2 separate regions of the Homo sapiens genome follow, and region 1 is linked to region 2. The links come from fine-mapping of genetic effects on gene expression. Tissue or cell type: whole blood. Region 2 holds a variant in brackets; the other region holds the start of a gene. All regions are shown on one strand. Distances are from middle to middle.

The links.
Region 1: it holds the start of COTL1, and the variant in region 2 is fine-mapped to the expression of COTL1 in whole blood (TOPMed, PIP above 0.99).

Annotation. Positions count from the first base shown.
Region 1 is chr16:84,615,728-84,620,727 of GRCh38, forward strand. It overlaps COTL1 (coactosin like F-actin binding protein 1), which reads right to left and starts at 2,351. Exons shown (of 4, transcript NM_021149.5): 1 at 2,111-2,351; 2 at 1,774-1,856. The coding sequence starts at 2,187. RefSeq lists silencers at 2,180-2,229, 2,250-2,609.
Region 2 is chr16:84,563,019-84,568,531 of GRCh38, forward strand. COTL1 (coactosin like F-actin binding protein 1) reads right to left here. Exons shown (of 4, transcript NM_021149.5): 4 at 2,578-3,937. The coding sequence ends at 3,827. Among named protein-coding and RNA genes, the nearest start is that of COTL1, 52 kb to the right of the region's middle. The variant T/C (reference allele first, on the strand shown) is at 3,397.

The DNA.
Region 1 (5,000 bases), 52 kb after region 2:
GGTTCAAATCCTGCCCTGCCAACTCTCCACATCGTTGCAGTGCTTTATGCTGCGATTTTAGGCCAACTGTTTACAAAAGCAATGAATGAATGTCTACAGGCAGCGCTCAAGGAGTAATTTTAGTTTTGTGTGTGTGTGTGTGTGTGTGTGCGCGCACGCGGGTTCTCAGTATCACCCATCCTCTAGTAGTCACACCACAAATACCCTTTGAATTGAACTAAATGCAAAATATAATTTGATTATGGAAGCAGTTAAGGAAAGAAACACCCACATGATCCCTGGCACAATTTTGTACTTTTTATTTATTTCGCAAACAATCATGTAGCTTGTACAGGCACTGTTCTGAGCATTTTATACATACTGACTCACTTATCCTCGCAACAGCACTGTGAGAGTGCAGGTGAGGAAACCAAGACCCCCAGAGATTAAGGAACTCGTTCCAAACCACACAGCCAGGAAGCAGCCGTTCAGGGATTCGAACCCACACCGTCGGCCGGGCGCAGTGGCTCACGCCTGTAATCCCAGCACTTTGAGAGGCCAAGGTGGGCAGATCACCTAAGGTCAGAAGTTAGAGACCAGCCTGGCCAAAATGGTGAAAACCCCATCTCTACTAAAATTACAAAAAATTAGCCAGGCGTGGTCGTGGGCGCCTGTAATCCCAGCTACTCAGGAGGCTGAGGCAGGAGAATCTCTTGAACCCGGGAGACGGAGGTTGCAGTTAGCTGAGATTGTACCACTGCACTCCAGCCTGGGCAAAAGAGGAAGATTCTGTCTCAAAAATAAATAAATAAATAAATAAATAAATAAGTAACCCACACCGTCTGGCTCAGGGTCCACGCCGTAACCTCCGGGCTGTGCTGCCGTTGTCCGAAAGCTTGCTTCCAACTAAAGACCAGAGATGGGAGGGAGTCGCATTCTCCAATCTCTTTAAAAGGTCCCATTACCAACATCACAGAGCCTCTGCCACTACCGAAGGGTTTATGGCGATGCCTGCCACGTGGTCTTTCTTTTCATGGTTCACAAGCCACAGGGAAGTGCCTAAGGCACACAAATCTTAAGTATACAGTCTGATGATTTTTCACGCGGGTACACACCTGCATAACCCCCTCCCAGATCAACAAATGTCTACAGAGACATTTTCAGCTCCCAGCAGTCCGGGTGGTGTGCCCCTCCCCATCAGTGGCTATCTAGCCCCAAAAGCTAATCTCGATTCTGACATTCACACCATAGATTAGTTTCGCCTTGTCTAGGATTTCTAAATGGAATCATATGGTGTGTACTCTTTTGCATCTGATTCTACTCGTCAAATTAAAAATCACATAAAATCAGCACACGGGCAGACAATGATAGCGGGAGAAAGGAGGGCGCGGCTGAGTTTCTTTCCCTTCCAAGCAGCCCCCTAGCCTGTTCGTATTTGGGCTCAGTGACTGATCAAAGGGGACAGTGGGAAGAGCTGGATGGACACTGGAGTTTGGAAACACAGGAGTTGACCTTAGAAAACCAGTGGACCGCAGGGGGCAAAAGAGCTGCCCCGCCTGGAGAAGGCATTGTAGGATGGCGGAGGCAGGTGGGTCACTTCTGTTGCTTCGGATGTCCAGAGGGGAGAAGGTTTTATGAGGCCTTAAAACGCTCACACCGGGTTCCTCCCACGCCATGCGCCAGGGGCACCCCATGTGGCCACCGGTTCCTCCCGGGTTCGCTCTGGCCGGGGCTCCCCGGGTGCAGACAACCTCCCAACGACCGCGCATCCGCCCGGCAGGCGCGCCTCCCTACCTGTGCACTGCTGGATGAAGTGCTGGTACTCCGCTCCCTGCTCGCCGGGGACGATGGTGGAGCCGTCATATTTAAAAGTCACCCTTTGGGTTGGGAGAAGAAAAAAACACACACACACATCAGCGCTGGTGGCCGCGCGACGCGGCGCTTGCAGAGGACAATCTAACAGACGCGCTGGCCACGGAGAAGCCCGCGGGGGCCTGGCACGCCGTCCCGGAATAAGGCGAGGAAGACAGCGCGGGAGGCCCGAATCCGTCCCGCCTGGAGGCCGGCTCGGTGCACGAGGCCCCGCGCGAGCCCGGGGAGCGGGGCGTGGAGACGAATGAAAAGTTCCTACCAGATGACGGCCGAGCCGTCGTCGCGCACCAGGTTGTACGCCGCCCGGCAAGCCTCTTTGTCGATCTTGGTGGCCATCGCCGCGGAGCCGCAGCGGGACACTGTCCGGGGCGGCCGAGCGCGCCCCTGGCCGGCGGCGGGGATGGGAGCGCGGCGGGTACGCGCCGAGGGCGCACGGGCTGGCGGCGGTGGCGACGGCTACGCGGCGCCTGCAAGCTGCGAGCGCGGCGGCGGCTTCCACTGCGGACGGAGAGCGCGCGGGGACCCCAGGCCGTGGCCCGCCCCGCCCCCCCGCGCCCATTGGCCGCCCAGGCGGCGGCCCGCCTCTTCATTGGCCGTCGGGCTGCGGGGGCGGAGCGTCTTGATTCTCTGGCGGCCAATCCCAGACCGGAAGGCTTGCGCAACTCCGCGGTGGGGGCTGGAGTAGGGGCTTTGCCTCCTCCCTCTCACTCTCCCTCCTCCCTCCCGCTCTCTTCTCCCCCAACATCCCTCTTCTCTCTCCTTCTCCTTCTCACTTCCCCTCCTCCCCTCCCGACCCCTCCCTGGAAACTCCCACTACCCCAACCCCCTTTCCCACCCCGCCTTCCTCCTCTCCCTCCTCCTTCCTCTTCTTCCCCCACTGCTTGCTTCCCCCACTTCCCTGACCTCTTCCCCCTCCCTTCCCTCCCCCTCTTTCTCCCTTCCCCCTTTATTCTTCTTCCTCTCTCCTCCTCCCTCTTCTTGCCTATCCCAGCCCAAAACTTCTCCATCCTCCCTATTTCCTTCTCCCCAAGCTCTCCTCTTTCCTCCTCCTTGACCCCCTCCCCTGCTGCCCCCGGCTTCGCCTCCCTCTTCTCCACTTACCCTCCTGGCATCTCCTCCCTCCCTGTCCCCTACTCCCTCCTCCTATTCCCCCTCTCCCCCTTCCTCATTCTCCCCACCCCCCTGCCCCTGAGGCTGCAGGGCTGCAGAGCTCCACAGGGGACCTCCACGTGGATGATGTAATGCGTCAAACCCAAGGAGACAGGCTGGCCACTGTCCCTACCCCAGCGTTTGGTTCCATGGATTCTAGGTGGGGAGGAACTGGAAAGAATGAAGCATTTTAAATAGGAGGGGGTAGAAAGTGGACTGCTTCCAAAACGCTGGTGGGCTCGCGTTTACTCTGGATTCTGGTCATTTGCATTCCTATCTTAACCTCTCCCTTTGGGCTCCTCTGAAAGCACGAGCTGACTCATTCTGTCTTCCTCATTCCTTCACTGACTCATTCATTCATTCCCTCATCCAGCCATTCCACAGAGACCAGTTACAGCGTCCAGGTAGGTAAAAAGGCAGGATCCTGAAGACTGGGCTCTTGAATTGCATCCAGTACTGCCACTTTCCAACTGGGGGCCATTGGAAAGCCTCAAAACCTCTTTTAAATGACTCCTCAAATGGGAAAAATAGTATAACTGACATCACTGCTTTGTTTTAAGTGTAATTGAAATGATACTTGGAACAAATATACTAGACATTCGATAAAATGTCATCATTGTTGGTTATTAAGTGATAAAAACAAATCCTAAATAGAAACCCAAAAGGTCAGGGACAATGTCCAATTAATGTTAGAATTCTCAACAAGCAAAAAAACAAAAACGAGAAATTGAATGAATCAATCAATCAGTCAATCAATGGGTAGTTGAATGGGTGGGTGGACAGGAACACAGTTTCAGAAGAGTAGAGGCAGATGCTGTTATAAATAAGACAAAAAGAAATTCACATTTCATACCCCACAAAGCCATTCCTACCTTACTCCTTGACAAGGGTAATGGGACAATTGGCCATTAGAAAGAAGAACAAAGGTGGATCCTTTGATCAGGGAAAATTCCAAAAGGATCAAAAATTTAAACACAAATAAAGGAAATCAGACCAGTCGCAGTGGATCACTCCTGTAATCCCAGCATTTTGGGAGGCTGAAGTGGGAGGATCTCATAAGCTCAGGAGTTCGAGACCAGCCTGGATAACAGGGGGAAAGCCCATCTCTACTAAAAATACAAAAATTAGCCAGGCGTGGTGGCAGACGACTGTAATCCCAGCTACTTGGGAGGCTGAGGCAGGAGAATCGCTTGAACCCGGGGCGGGGGGCAGAGGTTGCAGTGAGCTGAGATCGCACCATTGCACTCGAGCTTGAGCGATAAAGCGAGACTCTGTCTCAAAAAAAGGAAATCACAAAAGTGCCAGAAGAAAATATGGGGAGCTTCCTTCTAACCATAAACCATGTTACCCAAATCCAAATCCAAAAGCCATTGAAAAGATGAATACATTCAAACACATAAAAAGTGATCCAGGAAAAAAAAAAAAAAACATACCATACCACCTCATGCAAAGTGTAAACATAAAAAGACAAAGCAGTAAAAAGTGTTTGCAACTCAAGTAAAGAATTAGTCTTGCTAAAATATAGAGAAGTCAAACTTAAAAAAAAGAAAATGAAAAGAACAATGGGCACAGAATATGACCAGACAGATTAAATGATCTTAAACATGCAAAAAGATGCTCAACCTCAACTCCTAGTAAGAGAAATGCAAATTAAAGCAAAATTGAGATACCTTTAAAAAATAAATAAATAAACTAGCAGTTTGGTAAAAATAAAAAACTTTGACAAGCCTACTTTGCTGGGGAGGCTGTGGAAGACCCAGGTCCTCTTGTACATTGCTGGTGGGAGTGTGAATTGACACAACCCCCATGGAGCCGCCGTAGAGGCCAGTTGGCAATGTCTAGCAAATTTACAAGTCTGTGTGCCCTTGATCAATCCATTTACCCTATAGGGTCAGTGGTGCCCAGCCATGGCTGGACATGGGAATCACCAGGGTCCCCTGATCCCACACCCAGACATTCTGATATAATTGGTCTGAGATATGCCCTGGGTATGGAGATTT
Region 2 (5,513 bases):
TAGCGCCATTGCACTCCAGCCTGGGTGACCGAGCAAGACTCTGTCTCAGAAAAAAAAAAAAAAGGCAAGGTTTCTCTGCCTTCAGTGGTCTCATGATCCCTTGGGATCCCCAGCAAAGGCCCAAGCTGCAGTTTTCAAGTTAAAGCCAAGCTCCTTGACACACGAACAAGCTGCTTCAGACCCTGGCTCACCCGTGGGCAAACATTCCATGGAGCTTATGTCCACGCTTTCCTGTTCCTCCCCTCCTTTCCCCGCGTTCTCAGCTCAGGTACCACCTCCTTAGGGAAGCCCTCCCCCATACCCTAGCCAGATCCAGGGCCCTTGTGAGCTCTCATGGAACCTGGGCTTTTTTCTCTGAAGGAGACTTATCCTCATCTGGAAACACACACCCTCTGGTGGGACAAGCTGATTAATATCCATCATCCCTGCTAGACTCAGCCTCCTTGAGGGTGGGGGCTGTCTGAGTTTGTTCATCATCAAATCCCCATACCTAGGCCAGTGCCTGGCACATAGTAGGTGCTCAATAAACCTGTCTGCACTTGCCCTTCAAGATTCCAGTCATGGCTGGGTGCAGTGGCTCACGCCTGTAAGCCCTACACTCTGAGAGGTTGAGGTGGGAGGATCGCTCAAGTCCAGGAGTTTGAGACCAGCCTGGGCAGCATAGGGAGACCTCCTATCTAAAAAAATACAAAACTTAGCTGGGCATGGTGGTGCACACCTGTAGTCCCAGCTACTCAGGAGGCTGAGGCAGAAGGATCGATTGAGCCCAGGAGATGGAGACTGCAGTGAGCTGTGATTGTGCCGCTGCACTCCAGCCTGGGTGGCAGAGTGAGACCCTGTCTCAAAACTAACAAAATGAAAACAAACAAGATTCCACTCACGAGAGGAACCCACAGAGGGAGAGGCAGGCCTCCCTTCCAGCCCCTCCTGCCCGGGATCAGGGCCACTTCTGCAGCTGTCTGGAAAGGAAAAGCTGGCGTTCGTTGAGTCTGGCACTCCAATTTCACTCACTAGTCTGGGATAGAGGCCTCATCTGTATTTTCAAAGCTCCCAGTGATCCTAATTCACAGCCAGGGATGAGACCACAGGCCTAGGGGCAGATTTGAGAGCTGCTCATTCTTTCTAGTCTGCTTTGGGGCAGGGAGTGGGGTGGGCAGTGGGCCTGGAGGAGGGCTTGGCCGACCAGGAGATTCCAGGAGAGGATGGAAGGCTTGCGGGACGCAGTGCATGAGTGACATGAAGTCATGCACCTACTGAGCCCATGTTCTGAACGGAGCTAAAACCCGTGCACTGGGAACGGACCTAGTTTAGCTCCCTCAGCTCTGGGTATAGGAAAAGACGGAAGCCCACAGAGCTAACAAGACCAGTGGCAGGCGTGAGATAAGAACACTGCACCCTGACAGGCGCCCTTTGCCTGCACAATCCTCGCTGCTCCTTAAGCCTTTCTACACGTAGGCAATGTTGTCTATTTTGCAGATGAGGAAACCGAGGCTGAGAGGTTAACTAAATTGCCTAAATCCACACAGCTGTGAACAGATGAGCAGAAATTAGAACCCAGACGTGGCTGGGGCGGGCTGGGGCTGGGGAGGGTGGTGACCTATGGCCCCCTGCCACCCTGGGCAGCATGATCAGGGCCTTGCCCATACCTTGTAGGATTCCTTCCTGCCCTGATTTCGGCTTCTGCCCTCTCTCCGCACTCTCCCTGCCCCACACTCAGCTCCTCCAAGCCCCGCTGTCTGTGTCTGAAACTCCTCTGCCCTGATTCTGGGCTCCCACAGGGTCTGGTGTGCTGGAAGTCCAGTTTCTCAGCTGTAGGATAACCTCAGAAAGGATGTCATGGCCAACGAGGAAGATGCTTTCTCTTGGCTTTTCCTAAACAGGCAGACAGGGGAGTTCTGGCCACTCAAAAAGAATCACTACCTGTGGTCCCATCGCTATCCCAAATGTGTGGCCTCCCCGCTCCCCTCACAAGCCACAGCACCAGGGACTTTGAGAGATCTCAGTTCAAATCCCAGCTCTGGCCGGGTGTGGTGGCTCACGCCTGTAATCCCAGCACTTTGGGAGGCCAAGACGGGCAGATCACCTGAGGTCAGGAGCTCGAGACCAGCCTGGCCAACATGGCGAAACTCCATCTCTACTAAAAATACAATAATTAGCCAGGCATGGTGACGGGTACCTGTAATCCCAGCTACTATGGAGGCTGAAGCAGGAGAATCTCTTGAATCTGGGAGATGGAGGTTGCAGTGAGCTGAGATCTCCCCACTGCACTCCAGCCTGGGCCACAGAGTGAGACTCTGTCACCAAAAAAAAAAAAAAAAAAAATCCCAGCTCTGCCACTTTCTATCTGGGTGACCTCGGGTGAATGAATCCCTCTGAGCCTCAGATTTCAGGAAATGGGGACAAAAGCAGCACCTGTTTCTTATGGTTGCTAAGAATTAAATAAGCAATTGAATGTGAATGTGCCCCGCCTCAGCAGCTCCGCAAACACCTATTAAATCTGAAGGCGATGATGACTGCCTCTGTTATTACAGCAAAAAAAAAAAAAGAACTTTGTAGGACAAATCAGAAACCAAACTGTTTTCTGAAAAACAAAAAAAACATTTATTTCTGTAAACTGTCTGAGTGCAGAGATGTTCTTTACAATCCCAATACAGTACAGATTTCTTCCCCAAAACGAAATGAGCAAGGAAAAACAGAAAAAGAGCTATATCAAATGTGCTCATGAAGAACCAAGCCAATCTCACCTTTCTTTAAAAACAAAACAAAACGATCCTTTTGAATGTGTGGTGCAGACGCAGGACTGAAGCCACAGGCTTTTGGGGTGCTGTGAGCCCAGGGCTTTGCTCAGCTCACAGCTAGCGCGGCGGGCAGAGCAACCCTTCGGCCCAAGCCATCCTCGCAGCTTACACAGAAGCTTCCTGAACCTAAGGGATCCGTTCCCAGCTCTCCTTAAATTCCCAGTCCCCACCCTGGGCCTCTCTCCCTAACGATCTTGTCGCTTTGGGAGCCCCTGAAGTGAACCCTGAAATACTCCCTCCGTCAACTCTGGGCTCAGACCTTTGCCCTTCTCTGTGTCACAAGGAAATTTCGGTCAAGAGGGTGGGAACAGGTGGTTTCAGACCGTGCAGCAAAGCCACTGCCAGGTAAGTTTTAAGGCAAATTTTATCTCTTCTTATTCAGTCTGAGCCGGACCTAACCTTCTCACCACCGAGCAATCCTGCCTATGCTGGACATGCATCTTAGGCAACTCCGGATGGAGGTGGGATGAGGGAGCCCGGGGCAGATACCAGGAGGTCTGGGCCTTAGTAGGGAATGGACGTGTGTGCTTATGAAGGCTGCAGGCACCGGGCACAGCTCCTGGCCCAGCTGCCCCTCAGTGGTACACAGGAAGCAGGG[T/C]CCAGGAAAACTGAGATGGCAAAATAGGCCCGGGCTCTGGAAAGCAACGTGAGGTCATGCAGATCTCACTAGGCAGACCTCGTCGCGTGGAAGAGAAATGCCAGGAAAAGGGGTCACTGCAGGAGGCACCTCGGATCTGATGGCAGGCAGGACCTTGCATCAAAATGACTTTTCTTTAGAACAAAAAAGAGGGGGAGAAAAGAAAAAGAAGATCAAAGAAAGAGGTTCCATGAGCGTCATGAGATAGGACACGGCAGGGTTCTAAGGGAAGCGGGAAGGTGGGGGCTGTGGACACAGGGTGGCGGGCGCTGCCTCTCATGGCTTCTTTTCTCCCTGGTGGGCTGGTGGGCTAGTAGCTGAGGCCGGCGGTCCTCTCCCCCGGGGAGCAGGCAGATGACTTTGGCAAGGGGTGGTGTGGCGGGGGCTGGGGTTACTCCGTCTGGGCGTCGTAATTGGCTCCCCCCGCCTTCTTCAGCTCGCTCTTGATGAAATCTTCCTCCAGCTCCTTCCGATCACTGATCACAAACTCCTTAGCGAAATTCTGCAAGAACAAAGGAAAACACAGCGTTCCTATTAAGAAGGAAGGCACAGGATGTGAGGGTGGCTCAGGCAACACACTGGGAAGCAAAGCACTGAAAACCCTGATGAGAGATGGAAATGGAAATTCAGCAGCAGAGTCAGTCAATGGAAATTCAGCAGCAGAGTCAATGGAAATTGAACAGCAGAGTCATCTGGCAGAAAAAACCTGACTGGGAGGAGGGAGTGGGGCAGATCTGATGCTGCGTCTTCCCATGTCCGTGGGGATGGCCCGAGGAAGCTGGGGCTTGAATTTGGGCTGTTACCTTGGCCAAGTCCCTTCAATTCTCTGTGCCTCAACTTTCTCATCTGTAAAAAACTATCTCGTCAGGAAAATAATAGGTTACGAGGTTGGAAAGGCTCACGGGTGTGCAGGCACTCCAAAAAAAAGAAAAGGACAAAAGCTCAGATTGGTGTCTTTTGCCCATATCCATGATGTAAATAGTCCCCCAGTGGCTGACGTCAAGCTATCAAAGTGATGTCACCATACGTGGAGGTGGAAGGAGACAGGCGTAATTGGCTCTCGCCAGCTGGGACAAGCAAGCTTCAGCCACCAATGTTCCTAATGACGCAGGAGCCTCCAGTCCTGGGTCTGCCATGGGCTCTCCACCCGCACTGAGTTACACGAGGGTAGAGGCTCTGCCTTCTTTCAACAAATACCACGCCAGGCTGTGGGGCTACAGGGCTCAGCAAAATGGATGCAGTCAGTCTTTCCTCTTGCAGTACACAGGTTTCACCCATAGAACCCGCAGGCACCCATGATGCACTCAGTAAACGCTTGTGGCATGAATGAGGGAACCAGGTGACCTGGCTTATCAGACACCCTTAAGCCATGATGATACACAGTTACTGCCATATGTGGATCATAAGACTTTAACAAACAAAATTTCAGAACGATGACGGACAGCTTGACAAAAAAAAGCTATCAAAACCACAAATAACACGTCTAAAGGTAAGAAAATCATCCACATTAAAAAAAAAAGCCCATAAGGAAATAACATAAACAATGACCACCATTTTTCTTTTTCTTGAGAGAAAAGCCTGTTGCCCAGGCTGGAGTGCAGTGGCGCAATCTTGGCTCACAGCAACCTCTGCCCCCAGGGTTCAAGCCATTCTCATGTCTCAGCCTCCCAAGTAGCTCGAACTACAGGCGTCTGCCACCACACCCAGCTATTTTTTGTATTTTTAGTAGAAGCAGGGTTTCGCCACATTGGCCAGGCTGGTCTCAAACTCCTGGCCTTAAGTGATCCGCCCAGCTTGGCCTCCCAAGGTGTTGGCACTACAGGCGTGAGCCACCACGCCCGGCTAACCACAATTATTAAGCACTTATGTGTACCAGCACAGTGCCACAGTACTGAGAATGACACACAGTAGTAAATATGAATCATGGAAGGTGGAAGCAACCCCTATGTCCATCAACAGAGGAGTGGATTATCAAAACACGGTCCGTCCACACAATGGAATATTCCTCAGCCACAGAGAGGAATGAAGCGCTGCCACACGCAACTACATGGATGAACCTCGGAAACAGGATGCTGAGT